Regions from separate parts of the Homo sapiens genome. Here region 2 is linked to region 1. A link means that fine-mapping ties the variant in region 1 to the expression of a gene that starts in the linked region. Tissue or cell type: cerebellum. Region 1 holds a variant in brackets; the other region holds the start of a gene. All regions are shown on one strand. Distances are between the middles of the regions.

Evidence for each region. PIP is the estimated chance that this variant, and not a neighbour inherited with it, causes the effect.
Region 2: HACL1 starts here. The variant in region 1 is fine-mapped to the expression of HACL1 in cerebellum (GTEx, PIP above 0.99).

Annotation. Positions count from the first base shown.
Region 1 is chr3:15,547,119-15,555,300 of GRCh38, reverse strand. No RefSeq gene overlaps it. Among named protein-coding and RNA genes, the nearest start is that of COLQ, 30 kb to the right of the region's middle. The variant C/T (reference allele first, on the strand shown) is at 3,969.
Region 2 is chr3:15,596,616-15,604,797 of GRCh38, reverse strand. HACL1 (2-hydroxyacyl-CoA lyase 1) reads left to right here and starts at 3,229. Exons shown (of 17, transcript NM_012260.4): 1 at 3,229-3,415; 2 at 3,604-3,708. The coding sequence starts at 3,335. BTD (biotinidase) reads right to left here and starts at 3,053. Exons shown (of 4, transcript NM_001370658.1): 1 at 2,904-3,053. RefSeq lists a silencer at 2,781-2,840 and an enhancer at 2,682-3,324.

The DNA.
Region 1 (8,182 bases):
GTTTCACCTCAGCCCCAGCTTTGCTTGTGCTGTTTCTGCTGTGATGCTCTGTACACACCCACCCATTTTTGCCGTGTGGAGTTGGCTATATGCTTCAAGGCCCAGCTCAACAGTCCACTCTTCCATGAAGCCTTCCTTTCTCTGAATGTTCCTGCCGCACCTGGGGTGCACCCCTGTCACAAACTCAGTGTTCACGGTGAGCTAAATTCCCATCTCCCTCACCATCTTGTTTTGGGAAGGAAGTAATCCAGGAAGGGTTTATATCACAAAAGCTATAGCAGACAATTTTAAACAAGGATGCAGGGTGAATGGATGAACTACCAAGGATCAGAGGTCCACCCTGATGCCTGGGTATTAAGTAAGCCCAGCGGTTCTTAGAGCAATGCTGGGGATGGGGGGCTGGTGATCGTGAGGCCCTAAAATGACTGAAGTTTTATTTCCACCCTGGCAAAATGAAGGTCAAAATTAAAATTAGATAGAATTACTGAAAATAAATATTTCTTTCACACTGTTGTGGACTGAGATTTATATCCACTACATTCATCAAACCATTTAATGGTTCGTAGTGCCATCCCTGGCTCCCTACCCTCCATCAGCCACTCCATCCATCCCCTCTCCACACCACCCTACATTACTCTTGCGTTTCAGAATTTTTATGGTTATTTTATTTGTTTATTTTGAGACAGAGTTTCCCTCTGTTGCCCAGGCTGGAGTACAATGGCGCAATCTCGGCTCACTGCAACCTCCTCCTCCTGGGTTCAAGTGATTCTCCTGCCTCAGCCTCCCTAGTAGCTGAGATTACAGGTGCCTGCAACCACACCCAGCTAATTTTTGTATTTTTAGTACAGACGAGGTTTCACCATGTTGGTCAGGCCAGTCTCGAACTCCTGACCTCGGTGATCCACCCGCCTTGGCCTCCCAAAGTGCTGGGATTACAGGCATGAGCCACCAGGCCCAGCAGTTATTTTCACTTGATGATTTTTCCATATTAACCTTAGTAGCAAAAAAATCTGATATTTTAATTACAGTGTATTTTAAAATATAGTGTGTTAACAGAAAATATTCGGTAAGGCCAACATATCAGGAGACTGTTGGTATTGAAAAAATAGTTATTACTCAGAGTTCCCAAGAAGAGGTCTCAGGTAGAAAGAGAATGAGAACTAGTGGGCTAAAACCCTATTGTGATTACTGCAGGAAGAAAGAAGTGAGGCAGGGTAAACAAGTTTAGGATTTGTTTATTTGAACAATGTCGATATGCTCAGGAATGGTGTAGAGGCTGTCCCTAGCTGTCTGAATGCGGGCCTGGGGTGATTGGGTAGGGAGATAATCTCCCAGAATGTGAGAGCACCATAAAGAGGGCCATGAAGAGGGAAGTTGGGGTTATGAGCTCTGGATTGGTTGGCTTGTGTATGAAAGGCGAGTTGTTTGACCTCTCCAAGGTCAGTAAGGCTCAAGCAGGTGAATCATTTGCTATCACTGGGAATTGTCTAACCCTGTGCTGGGCAGTTCTTTCAGGGTCATTGAGGCCTAGTTGTCAGTGGAATTTTAAAGTTTTCATTATATTGATCTTACACAATTTTTGTTAAATTTGTTTCTAGATATTAATCTGTTTTGTTGCTATTTAGTGGCATTGGCAAGTACTTCCAAAACAAGGCTAAATGGCATTGGTGGGCACGCACCATTTTCCTTCTAGGTGTTTTAGAATCAGCACGTCATTTATCTACTTTCCTCCTTCAGGAGGGAGTAAAAGATGACAAGAAAACCTCCCTATTAGGAGTTACTGAGGCTGCAGGGTTGAAATACATGACAAGATCAAAAAAGAATACCTACTACCATTTCCAAGTTGGGGCTTGTGGTCACCTGCAATAACAAGTGACTTATTGGCAATTAACCCCCAGTCAGGGCTAGTTGAAATGCTAGTCAATTACTTGTTGCCTAAACCACCTTCCTTCATAGCACTGAGACCAATGACAAAGGCAAACATATTGAGAAAGCTGCTCCTCTGTAGTCTTCACCTTCAAAATCTCAGACCAGAAAAGAGGGAGGAGGTGGCGCAAGATGGCTGAATAGGAGCCTCCACCAATCATCATCCTTGCAGAAACACCAAATTAACTATCCACACAATAAAGCACCTTCATAAGAAGCAAAAATAAGGTGAGAAATCACAGTACCTGTTTTTAACTTCCTATCACTGAAAGAGGCACTGAAGAGGGTAGGAAAGACAGTCTTGAATTGCTGATGCCACCCCTCCCCCATGCCCCAGCAGTGGTTGTGTGGCATGGAGAGAATCTGTGCATTTAGGGGAGGGAGAGTGCCGTAACTGTGGGACTTTGCATTGGAACTTAGTGCTGCTGTGTCACAGCAGAAAGCATCATGAGGCAGAACTCAGCTGGTGTCCATGGAGGGAGCATTTAGACCACTCCTAGCCAGAAGGGCTAAAGTACTCTGGAGTCCTAAATAAACTTGAAAGACAGTCTAAGCCACAAGGACTTCAATTCCTGGGCAAGTCTTGATGCTGTGCTGGGCTTGGAGCCAGTAGACTTCAGGGGCACACAGTCCAGTGAGATACCAGCCGGGGTGGCCAAGGGAGTGTTTATACCACCCCTTCCCTTGCCCCAGGCAGTGCAGCTCGCAGCTCTAGGAGAGACTCGTTCCTTCTGCCTAAGGAGAGGGAAGAGTAAAGAGGACTTTGTCTTCGAGTTCAGCCACAGTAGGGTAGGGCACCAGGCAGTCCTGAGGCCCCCATTCCAGGCCCTAGGTCCTTGATGACATTTCTAGACCTACCTGGGCTAGACCCCTACCACTGCCTTGAAGGAAAGGATCCAAACCTGGCAGGATTCATCACCTGCTGATGAAAGAGCCCTTGGGCCCTGAATAATCAGCAGTAGTAGCCAGGTGGTACTCATCATGGGCCTTGGGTGAGACTCAGATGTGCTGGCTTCAGGTATGATCCAGCACATTCCCAGCTGTGATGGCTACTGGGGGAGACTCCTTCTGCTTGAGAAAAGGAGAGGGAAGAGTAAAGGTGTCTTTGTCTTGGAGCTTAGGTACCAATTCAGCCACAGTGAATAGAGCACCAAGCAGGCTCTTGGAGTCCCCAGTATGAGGCCTTGGCTCTTGGATGGCATTCCTAGTCCTGCCCTGGGCCAGAGGGGAGCCCAGTGACCTGGAGGGAGAGTCCCAGGCCTAGCAGTATTCATCACAAGCTGACTGAAGAGGACTTCAACCTTGGGTGAACATTGGCAGTGGCCAGGCAGTAGTTGCTGTGTGCCTGGGGTGGTGGTGACCACAAACAGACTCTTCTTGTGGAAATGGGAGGGAAGTGTGGGAAGGACTTTGTCTTGTGACTTGGGTGCCAGCTCAGCCTCAGTAAAATAGTGAACCAGGTAAATTCCGAAGTTTTCTGACTCCAGATCCTGTTCCCGGATGGCATCTCTGGACCCAGTCAAGGCAGAGGGGACCTCACTGCCCTAAAGGGAGGGACACAAGCCTGGCTGGCTTTGTCCAGCTGATTGTAGAGCCCTAGAGCCTTGAGTGAATATACACAGTAGCCAGGTAGTGGTTACCGTGGGCCTTGAGCAAGACCCAGTGCTGTGCTGGCTTCAGGTCTGACCCAGTGCAGTCCCAGTGGTGGTGGACATAGGGGTGCTTGTGTCATCCCTCCCCCAGCTCCAGAAGGAACAGCACAGAAAGATTACATTTGTTTGGGAGAAAGTAAGGTAAGAGAACAAGAGTCTAGGCCTGGCAATTCAGAGAATTCTTCTGGATCTTATCCAAGACCGCCAAGGTCTTGGGGTATTACACAGCATTACTGGGCCTGGGGTGCCCCCTAATGCAGGTTTGGCTGCAGCAGCCAAAAACTTGGATCACAACACACAAGTTCCTTCAAATGCCTGGAAAGCCTTCCCAAGAAGTATAGGTACAAACTGTCTCAGGCTGTGAAGACTACAATAGATACCTGTATTAGT[C/T]CATTTTCATGCTGCTAGTAAAGACATACCGGAGACTGGGAAGAAAAAGAGGTTTAATTGGACTTACAGTTCCACATGGCCAGGGAGGCCTCAAAATCATGGTGGGAGGCAAAAGGCTCTTCTTAAATGGTGGTGGCAAGAGAAAACGAGGAAGAAGCAAAAGCAGAAACCCCTGATAAAGCCATCAGATCTCCTGAGACTTACTATCATGAGAATAGCACAGGAAAGACCAGCCCCCATGATTAAATTATCTCCCCTTGGGGTCCCTTCCAAAACACATGGGGATTCTAGGAGATACAATTCAAGTTGAGATTTGTTGGGGGACACAGCCAAACCATATCATTCTGTCCCTGGCCCCTCCAAATCTCAATGTCCTCACATTTCAAAACCAATCATGCCTTCCAAGAGTCCCCCAAAATCTTAACTCATTTCAGCATTAACCCAAAAGTCCACAGTCCAAAGTCTTATCTGAGACAAGTCAAGTAAGTCCCTTCTGCCTATCAAAAGCAAGCTAGTTACTTCCTAGATACACTGGGGGTAGAGGCATTGGGTAAATACAGCCATTCCAAATGGGAGAAATTGGCCAAAACAAAGGGGCTACAGGGCCTATGCAAGTCCTAAATCCAGGGGGCCATCAAATTTTAAAGTTCCAAAATGATCTCCTTTGACTCCAGGTTTCACACCCAGGTCACGCTGATGCGAGAGTTGGGTTCCCATGGTCTTGGGCAGCTCTGCCCCTGTGGCTTTGCAGGGTACAGCCTCCCTCCTCGCTGTTTTCGTGGGCTGGCATTGAGTGTCTGCAGCTTTTCCAGGTACATGGTGCAAGCTGTCAGTGGATCTGCTGTTCTGGGGTCTGGAAGACAGTGGCCCACTTCTCACAGCTCCACCAGGTGGTGCCCCAGTACGGACTCTGTGTGGGGGCTCTGACCCCACATTTCCCTTCTGCACTGCCCTAGCAGAGGTTCTCCATGAGGGCCCTGCCCCTGCAGCAAACTTTTGCCCAGGCATCCAGGTGTTTCCATGAATATTCTGAAATCTAGGCAGAGGTTCCCAAACCTCAGTTCTTGTGACTTCTGTGTACCCACAGGCTGAACACCATGTGGAAGCTGCCAAGGCTTGAGGCTTCCACCCTCTGAAGCCACAGCCCGAGCTGTATGTTGGCCCCTTTCAGCCATGGCTGGAGCCGCTGGGACACAGGACACCAAGTCCATAGGCTGCACGCAGCACGGGGACCCTGGACCCGGTCCATGAAACTACTTTTTCCTCCTTGGCCCTTCAGGCATGTGATGGGAGGGGCTGCTGCAGAGTTCTCTGACATTGCCTGGAGACATTTTCCCCATGGTTTTGGGGATTAACATTAGTCTCCTTGCTACTTATGCAGATTTCTGTAGCTGACTTGAATTTCTCCCCAGAAAATGGGTTTTTCTTTTCTATCGCACAGCCAGGCTGCACACTGTCCAAACTTTTATGCTCTTCTTCCCTTATAAAAGTGAATGGCTTTAACAGCACCCAAGTAACCTCTTGAATGCTTTGCTGCTTAGAAATTTCTTCTGCCAGATACCCTAAATCATCTCTCTCAAATTCAAAGTTCCACAAATCTCTAGGGCAGGGGCAAAATGTTGCCACTCTCTTTGCTAAAACATAACAAGAGTCATCTTTGCTCCAGTTCCCAAAAAGTTCCTCATCTCCATCTGAGACCACCTCAGCCTAAATTGTATTGTCCATATCACCATCAGCATTTTGGATAAAGCTATTCGACAAGTCTCTAGGAAGTTCCAAACTTTCCCACATTTTCCTGTTTTCTTCTGAGCCCTTCAAACTATTCCAATCTCTGCCTGTTAGCCAGTTCCAAAGTTGCTTTCACATATTCAGGTATCTTTTCAGCAATGCCCCACTCTACTGGTACCAAGTTACTGTATTAGTTCATTTTCATGCTGCTTGTAAAGACATACCCGAGTCTGGGAAGAAAAAGAGGTTTAATTGGACTTACAGTTCCATATGGCTGGGGAGGCTCAGAATCATGGTGGGAGGTTAAAAAGCACTTCTTACATGGTGGCAACAGGAGAAAATGAGGAAAAAGCAAAAGCGGAAACCCCTGATAAACCCATCAGATCTCGTGAGACTTACTATCACGAGAATAGCATGGGAAAGACCAGCCCCCATGATTCAATTACCTCCCCCTGGGTCCCTCCCACAACACGTGGGAATTCTGGGAGATACAATTCAAGTTGAGATTTGGGTGGGGACACAGCCAAACCATATCAATACCTAACTCTTCAATGTGCATGCACTGATGAACATCTGCAAGCATCAAGACCATCCAGGAAAACATGACCTCACCAAACTAACTAAAGCACTAGGGACCAATCCCAAAGAGACAGAAATATGTGAACTTTCAGACCGAATTCAAAAGGAACTCGGTTTTGAGGAAAGTCAAAGAAATTCAAAATAACACAGAAGGAATTCAGAATCTTTTCAGATAAATTTAACAAAGAGATTGAAACGATTAAGTAGAATCAAGCAGAAATTCTGGATTTGAAAAATGCAGTTGACATGCCGAAGGATGTTTCAGTCTCTTAACAGCAGAATTGATGAAGCAGAAGAAAGAATCAGTGAGCTTGAAGACAAGCTACTTGAAAATACATGGTCACAGACAAAAAAAAAAAAAAAAGAAAGAAAGAAAAGAATGAAGCATGCCTACAAGATCTAGAAAGTAGCATCAAAAGGGCAAATCTAAGAGTTATTGGCCTTAAGGCCGGGCATGGTGGCTCACGCCTGTCATCCCAGCACTTTGGGAGGCCGAGGTGGGTGGATGATGAGGTCAGGAGATCGAGACCATCCTGGCTAACACGGTGAAACCCCATCTCTACAAAAAATACAAAAAAATTGGCCAGGTGTGGTGGCACGTGCCTGTAGTCCCAGCTACTTAGGAGGCTGAGGCAGGAGAATCACTTGAACCCGGCAGGTGGAGGTTGCAGTGAGCCAAGATTGTGCCACTGCACTCCAACCTGGGTGACAGAGCAAGAGTCCGTCTCAAAAAAAAAGTTATTGGCCCTAAAGAGGAGGTAGGTAGAGAGAGAGATGAGGGTAGAAAGTTTATTCAAAAGGATAATAACAGCTTCCCAAACCTAGAGAAAGATATTAATATTCAAGTACAAGATGGTTATAGAACACCAAGCAGATTTAACCTAAAGAAGGCTACCTCAAGGCATTTAATAATGAAACTCCCAAAGGTCAAGGATAAGGAAGTCAGCCTACAAGCAAGAGAAAAGAAACAGTATACAATGACGCTTCAGTACGTCTCGCAGCAGACTTTGCAGTGGAAACCTTACAGGCCAGGAAAAAGAGTGACATGACACATTTCAAGTGCTGAAGGAAAAAACTTTTACTGTAGAATAATATAACCAGCAAAAATTTCCTTCAACTGTGAAGAAGAAATACTTTCCCAGACAAAAGCTGAAGGGTTTCATCAACACCAGACCTGTCCTACAAGAAATGCTAAAGGGAATTCTTCAATCTGAAAGAAAAAGACCTTAATGAGCAATAAGAAATTATCTGAAGCTGCAGAATTCACTGTTAATAGTAAACACACAGAAAAACACAAAATATTATAACACTGTAATTGTGGTGTGCAAACTCATATCTTAAGTAGAAAGACTAAATGATGGACAAGTCAAAAATGGCCAGGCACAGTGGCTCTTGCCTGTAATCCCAGCACTTTGGGAGGCCAAGGTAGGCAGGTTGCTTGAGCTCAAGAGTTCAAGACCAGCCTGGGCAACATAGTGAAACCCTGTCACTACAAAAAAATACAAAAAATTAGTTGAGTGTAGTGGCATGTTCCTGCACTTTCAGCTACTCAGGAGGCTGAGGTGGGAGTCACCACCCTGGAGGTCGAGGCTACAGCCAGCCTGGGCGTTAAGTGAGAGCCTATCTCAAAACAAAACAATAACTGCAACAACTGTTCAAGACAGAGTTCAGTAAGGTATAAATTAAAACAAAAACAAAATAAAAAGTAGAGGGAAGAAGTTAAAGTGTACAGATTTTTTATTTTTATTTCTCACACTATACTGATGTAAAAAGTGTAGCATTTTAATTAGTTTTCTCTTTGCTTGTTTATACAAGTGTTAAGTTGTCATCAGTTTAAAGAAATGGGTTATAAGATATTATTTGCAAGCTTCATGGTAACCTCAAATCAAAAAACATATGATTGATAA
Region 2 (8,182 bases), 49 kb before region 1:
TGCTATGCAAAGAGACTAGTGGCATTTTGCCCCTGTCCTAGAGATCTGTGGAACTTTGAACTTGAGAGAGATGATTTAGGGTATCTGGCAGAAGAAATTTCTAAATGGCAAAGTGTTCCAGAGGAAGCAGAGCATACAAATTTGAAAAATCTGCAGACTGACGATGCAGTAGAAAATAAAAACCCATTTTCTAGGGAGAAATTCAAGCTGGCAGCAGAAATTTGCATAGGTAATAAGAAGCTAACTATTAATCACCAAGACAATGGGGAAAATGTCTCCAGGGCATGTCAGAGACCTTCACAACAGGCCCTCCCATCACAGGCCCAGAAACCTAGGAGGAAAAATGGTTTCATGGGTCAGGTCCAGGGTCCCCCTGCTGTTTGCAGCCTAGGGACTTGGTGTCCTGCATCCCAGCCATGCCAGCCATGGCTAAAAAGGGCCAATGTACAGCTCAGGCCTGGCTTCAGACAGTGCAAGCCTGAAGCCTTGGCAGCTTCCACATGGTGTTGAGCCTGCAGGTGCACAGAAGTCAAAAATTGAGGTTTGGGAACCTCTGCCTAGATTTCAGAGGATGTATGGAAATGCCTGGATGTCCAGGCAGAAGCTTGTTGCAGGGGTAGAGCCCTCATAGAGAACCTCTGCTAGGGCAGTGTGGAAGGGAAATGTGGGGTGGGAGCCCCCATACAGAGTCCCTCCTGGGGCACTGCTGGTGGAACTGTGAGAAGAGGGCCACCGTCCTCCAGACCCCAGAATGGTAGATCTACTGACCACTTGCACCATGTGCCTAGAAAAGCTGCACACACTCAATATTAGCCTGTGAAAGCAGCTGGGAGAGGGGGTTGTAGCCTGTAAAACCACAAGGGCAGAGCTGCCCAAGGCTGTGGGAGCCCACCTCTTGCATCAGCATGATCTGGCTGTGAGATACGAAGTCAAAATGATCCAAAGATCATTTTGGAGCTTTAATATTTGACTGCCCTGCCAGATTTTGAACTTGCATGGGGGCTTTAGCCCCTTTGTCTTGACCAATTTCTCCCATTTGGAACGGGTATATTTACCTCACTCCCGTGCACCCATTGTATCTAGGAAGTAACTATCTTGCTTTTATTTATTTATTTTTAAATTTAATTTTATTATTTTTTTTGAGACGGAGTCTCGATCTGTCCCCCAGGCTGGAGTGCAGTGGCCCAATCTCAGCTCACTGCAAGCTCTGCCTCCCGGGTTCACACCATTCTCCTGCCTCAGCCTCCTGAGTAGCTGGGATTACAGGCGCCTGCCACCATGCCCGCCTAATTTTTTGTATTTTTAGTAGAGATAGGGTTTCACCGTGTTGACCAGGATGGTCTCCATCTCTTGACCTCATGATCCGCCCGCCTCGGCCTCCCAAAGTGCTGGGATTACAGGTGTGAGCCACTGCGCCCAGCCACTAGCTTGCTTTTGATTTTACAGGCTCATAGGCGGAAGGGACTTGCCTTGTCTCAGATGAAACTCTGGACTGTGGACTTTCGAGTTAATGCTGAAATGAGTTAAGACTTTGGGGGACTGTTGGGAAGGCATGATTGGTTTTGAAATGTGAGGATATGATATTTGGGAGGGGCCAGGGGCAGAACAGTTTGGCTGTGTCCTCATCCAAATCTCATCTTGAATTATAGCTCCCATAATCCCCACATGTGGTGAGAGGGACCCAGTGGGAAGTAACTGAATCATGGGGAGGGGATTTTTCCCATGCTGTTCTAATGATAGTAAGTCTCATGAGATCTGATGGTTTTATAAAGGGCAGTTCCCCTGCACACGCTCTCTTGCCTGCCACCATGTAAGACATGCCTTTGCTCCTCCTTCACCTTCTGCCATGATTGTGAGGCCTCCGTAGCCATTTGGAACTGTGAGACCATTAAACCTCTTTTTCTTTATAAATTACCCAGTTTTGGGTATTTCTTTATAGCAGTATGAAAATGGACTAACACCGTCCACATATGCAGGGAGGCAACCACTTCACTCTCCTCTGCTTGGGGTGGGGTTGAGGGGTTGAGAAAAAGAGGGGAAGACCTTTTGAAAAGACCCAGGACTACAGTTTGAAAATGTCTGGGTTTAGAAATCGTTTCACTTCCAGTGCTTCTCACTCATTTCACTACCCATGACCCACTCCCCTCTCATCTCTTTACTGTCCACTTATCACTGTTCTTTTTGCTTAAAATGACTCCAAATCCTCAAAAAATTAAAAGTTCCACTGTTTATTACAATTGGAAATTTTATGTTTATTGTCACTGAGCAGAGGGTCTAATGACTCCAAGGCAGTAGTTTCAGATATTGCACATTGCAAACGATTTTCACACAAAAATGTTTTAAAAGGCTATCGGGTGCAGGGCTGGTTGTAGGTAGGGACCCAACCTAAGAATTATGAAACGCCATAGTTCCTAATTTTGGAAAGATATTAGCGGAGAGTAATATGGATTAGTAGCAAGGGCTGGAGAAAACAGTGCTCTATACTACCTTCAAGGTGCTCTTTTCATCGCTTGTGACCCAATGGCTGAATAGTGGGTAGGAAACAGGATTCAGGATCTCAGGCACGGTCTGGATCTACTGACTCTGAGCGTCATTTTATCTCTTGCTGGGGTACACATCTGCTTCTGGATTTAAGTAACGTGCGCTACAATAATTTAAGGACTATAAAACCACAAGGTTATGAGAGCGTAAACCACAAAGCGTGTAAGTAAATGCCTAGAAAACGCAACGCGGTAGCACAGCAGCAACGCACAAACAGCCCCAGCAAACGACGCGCGCCGGGCTTCCCAGCTCCCGGCAGCCTTTGCGCAGCCCTCCCCAAGTCCAACTGGGCGCCCGGGGCGGGGTCTGGACCGCACGCCCTTACCACACCCCCTCCGCGCCGCACCACGCCCCCTCCGTACCTGCTCTTAGCGCGCCTTCCGCCCTGAATATGCGCATGCGCCATTCTCCCTTTACAGCCCCGAAAACGCTCCAGCTGGCCGACTCGGAGACAATGGCGAGAGGCCTCAGAGTTCGGCTTCTTACCTGCTTTGCATAGGCAGCAATCTCCTGCTAGTCCCGCCTCCCTCTGGCATTCTGGCGCGCGAATGGAGGAGCCGAGAAGAGAGCGCAGTTCTGATTGGAGAACGCGCGTGTTTACATTCTCACCTCTCCCGGGAAGTGGACGAATTTAGACCGCCTCTTCCTTCCCGTTGTTTAAGGCAGTTGGTTGCCCTCCTGTCCGTCAGAGGTGCAGTACCAGAGGTGGCGTGCTGCCGATTTCGCGTTTGCCTTGCTGGATGATTCCGCTTGTTTGCCGGCTGCGTGAGTGCTTAGAGCTTTTCGGTGGAAGATGCCGGACAGTAACTTCGCAGAGCGCAGCGAGGAGCAGGTGTCTGGTGCTAAAGTCATCGCTCAGGCCCTGAAAACGCAAGTACGATGGACCTTCCTGGAATGAAAGGCTCCTACGGAAGCTGGCGGGGACCGCGATGTTGTCTTGGAGACGAGTAGAAATGGGCGATGGGGGTCGGGGGGTTTTCCTTTTAGCGCCCGGGAGGGAGGGAAGGATGTGGCGATATGGTGGGGCCTTGGGAGTTTACTCCCCTGTTCTTCGTTCCTCAGGATGTGGAGTACATATTTGGCATCGTAGGCATCCCAGTGACCGAAATCGCCATTGCTGCCCAGCAGCTAGGCATCAAGTACATCGGGATGAGGAATGAGCAAGCGGTGAGTATGGACTCAGGTGGCTGAATGCGTTACTGGGAATGATCAGTAATAGCGGTAGGTATGCATTGCAAACACCCAGATAGCGCTTACCACTCTTCTGCTACTTTACATATATCATATCAATCACTGTTGAATATTAACTGTTGTTACACCAAGTTGACAGATGAGAAAAGACACAGGTTAAGTAAAACTTGCCTTTGGTGACACAGCTGGTAGTAGCAGAGCCAGGGTTTGAACCCACGTATTCTGGGTCTGAGTCCATTCTCTTACTACTATACTGTATGTCATGATTGGAATGGACAGTTTATGAGTAAAGTCTGACTTCCCTATTAGGCTACAAGCTCCATTAGAGCAGGGATATTATTTCTTCACGACACATCTGTACCCCCAGTGCTTAGTGTGGTGCCTGCATAAGAAAGGTGTTCAGAGATTACCTGTGGGATAAATGAGTGAAGGCCAAGGCTTTGTTGTATGATTGGTTCGGGGCAGGGTGGAGGATATCACAAATGGTAGTGCCTTGATGGAAACTCAGATGGCTCAGATCCTAGCCTGATGCTTTTTCCACCACATCATGCTGCCACCTTTCTTAGAGGCTTATTTGGAAGCAGGATAAGGAAGATACGACGTTTTGTCAATCCACTTTAAGTGCATCCTCTGCCAATCCACCTTGCTCTTCTCTCAGTAGTGCGGGCTTGAAAGGTCAAGAATCCACTTCTGTGATATCACATACTCTCAGTCCAGCTGAGGCTAAATATTCCTGCTTTACACTCCCACCGTTGCCTTCTAATTTAAATTCTTGCCTCCTCTTGCCCAAACAACTGCCTGGCCACCCTAAGTGGTGCCTTTTGCCATCATACATGAGTGCCTGGAGGGCAGAAGTTGTGATTCATTTGTTATATCACCACAGTGCCTGGCTTGGTTTGTGCTTTCACGTGGTGTAGATGCTTAATATTATACATTATTTATTAATTGAATGACATTCTTTATTGAATGACATTCTTTATTGAATGACATTCTTTATCTACAAGGTTTGAGATTTGTATTTTTTAATCTTAAAACTAGGAGGTTTTGAGTTTCTGTTGCTTCTACATTTTACTTGTCTTTGTTAGAACAACATTCTGTTCTTTCATCTGTGTGAAAAAATGAAGCTATTGACCTATGAATGGAACCTATACTTAACTGTTTTTGTAGAGATGACATATCTGCCACTGATTTCTTCATACAGCAAACATTTATTGACTAAGTACTGTATACTAAGGATTGTGCTACATAACCTGTAGGAGAGAGGGATGTAAAGAAGGAGTGAGGTTTAGTCTTGATCTTCACGTTGATCAGTCCTGGAAGGTGAGGGTAAGACTTACAGAAAAAGACTCATCTATTATAACTCTCACAATAGATGTAGTAGCACAGAAGGGGTGACTGGTTCTCTTTGAGGACAGAGAAGATTGCCTGTAGAGGTAATGTTAGTTCATGTGGTTCCCTCAAGGTAGGTAAAGGCATGGTGAGCTGTGAGACTGGTAGGTAGGTTGAGGGGAGGTTGTGGGAAATCTAAAAAGAGTTTGAATTTTTTTTTTTTTTTAACAGTAGGCAATGGGGGAGACTAAAGGTTTTTCTAAACAGGTGGGCGATGTAATTAGATTTGTACTTCAGAAAGATGATGCGAGGCATGGTTGTACATGCCAGTAATCCCAGCTACGAAGGGGGCTGAGGCAGGAGGATTACTCAAGTCCAGGAATTAGAGGCTGCCTGGGCAACATAGCACGACCTCTGTCTCTAAGTTTTATTTCAGCCCCTATAAGCTTAGTTGAGGGTTCTTTAGGTCCCATGTGCTGTGTTGGGTGCTGGATACAGAGATGAATGATAGTTCCTGGCTTTAAGGGGCTTACAGCCAAGCTGTGGAGACAGACACAGACAATTGTATTATAAGGTGGTAAGTGCTGTGATAGAGAGATATCCAGGGTGCTATAAAGCCCAGAGAAGGAGTACCCAGGCTCAGCTTCCCACAGGAGATGATGTCTGAGCTGTCCTGAAGGATAAGCAGGCATTAACCAGTTAGGAAAGAGGAGGCAGGCTCCTCTGGAGATGATTCCTAGATTTTGGGCTTACTTGATTGATTGTGTAGATCATATTGTCTGTGACTGAGACTGGGAATATAGAGGGAAGAGCCAGCTTGGAGGAGAAAGGTGATGTTCAATTTTGAACACATGCATTTGAGATGTTGGTGGAACATCCCAGTGCATATGTCCCTCAAGCATCCTGACTCTATGGTAGTCAAAGGAAGACTTAAATGGTACCTGAACTAAGGGTAGTGACAGAATGATTCAGAGGGAACATGAAAACAGGCTAAGGCATTCAGGACATGTTTGTGATAAAGAGAAAGATGTAGTTGGGTGTGACTTCATTGTCTTTGATTAGATCCATAGAGTAATCAAGACATACTGACCAATTGGCCAGCAAGTAGGCAGATTGTCAGCAAGTTCATTGTTCTTGAGAGCTTACTGTGTGTGGGCACTATTTTGAGTGTTTTACACATACGAACTGATTTCATCCTCACAGCAGTGCTTTGAATTATTTTCATTTTATAGATGAAGAAACAGAGATTTAGAGCAACTTGCCAAAATTACACAGTAGAAAGTGGGGAAGCTGGGATTTAAATCAAAACAGATTGGCTCGAGAGTCCACTCTCTAAGTACCATGTACACTGTTCTGCCTGTGAATGGAGGTAGTTTAGTAGAGGAACAGATCTTTTATGGTCATAAAACCAGTTATGGCCAGGCGCGGTGGCTCACGCCTGTAATCCCAGCACTTTGGGAGGCTGAGGCAGGCAGATCACCTGAGGTCAGGAGTTTGAGACCAGCCTGACCAACATGGAGAAACCCCGTTTCTAAAAATATAAAATTAGCCAGGCGTGGTGGTGCATGTTTGTAATGCCAGCTGCTCGGGAAGCTGAGGCAGGAGAATTGCTTGAACCTGGGAGGTGGAGGTTGCCGTGAGCCAATATTGCATCATTGCACTCCAGCCTGGGCAACAAGAGCGAAACTCCGAAACTCTGTCTCAAAAAAAAAAAACAAAACAAAACAAAATAAAACAAAACAAAACAGTTACCTCTCAACTTTTGACATTTCCTACCAGAGGAATATACTTTTTGTTACGTGTTGTTGTATATTTTGCATTGCCTAGCAACATTTCTTACCTAGCTATCATAAGTGGGCAATTCTTTTGGGTGTCTAAATAAAGTGTTCTTATTGCAGCAGGTATTTACATGCCTGCATTTCTTAGGAGTTGTCTTATTCTCCTAATGTGAATTTGGCCTTATGTGCAAAAGGAAAGAGAGATGGGGCCAGTAGAGAATAGCGACACAGGAAAAGAGCAGAGTCTTTGTGCAGGTTCTCAGTGGGTGTATGATAGTAGAGCCAGTTAAGATTATGATCCATAAACATTTCCTTTTTTTTTTTTTCCACATTTATGTCGTTAATGTGGAGTTCTTTAAGACAGTATACTACTTCATTTAAAGCTGAATGAAGGCTAGGAAATACGCAATTCATTATTATTTCTAAAGAAATGAGAAGAAATAATACTGGGAAAAAAATGATGTCCCAGACTAAGAAGAATTTGAGAGAGCACTCAGCATTTTCCCAGGTTATCTTGTGTGCATTTAATTTAGTGCCCCCTCTCTTCCTGATTATGAGCTGAAGTAGAGTTACAAGGTAAAAACTATCCATATGCAGGCCATAAAGGAAATCTCAATAAATCGCCAAGGATTGAAAGCGTGCAGTATATGTCACCTGACCATGTGGAAGTAAAGTGGAACTCAATAAGAGATCACTAAAAAGAATCTCAGACCTTTGGAAATTAAGCAACATACTTTTTGGTATTTTGTAAATATTTGAAAAGATTAACAAAATGAATAAACTTCAAGATAGACTGATTGAGAATAAAAGAGAAAACAGATTACCAATGTCAGGAATGAAAAAGGAGGTATCACTACAGATCCTAATTAACCAATGGGTTGAAGAAGAAATCACAATGGAAAGTAGAAAATATTTTGAATAGAATGATAATGAAAAGATGCAACTCAAACTTGTAACCTATAACTAAAGCAGTTCTTGGAATCATTTTAAACAAATTATTAGTAAAGAAAATTAAAAACCAGTGTTCTAAATTTGTATTTTAAGAAGCTAGAAAAAGAAAAGCAAATCAAATTCAAAATGACTGAAATAATAAATACAAGAACAGAAATCAATGAAATAGAAAACAAACAATAGAGAAAAACCAACAAAAATTTTCGAAGAACTAAAAAAATTTGTTCTTTGAAAAGATGGATAAATTTGATAAACCCCTCATGAGACTGATGAAGAATAAAAGAAAGAAAACAAATTACCAATATTGTTAATAAAAGAGGACATTCCTATTGATCCTGCAGATATTTAAGCAATTGTAAGAGGATGTTTTGAATAACATACATATGAACAAA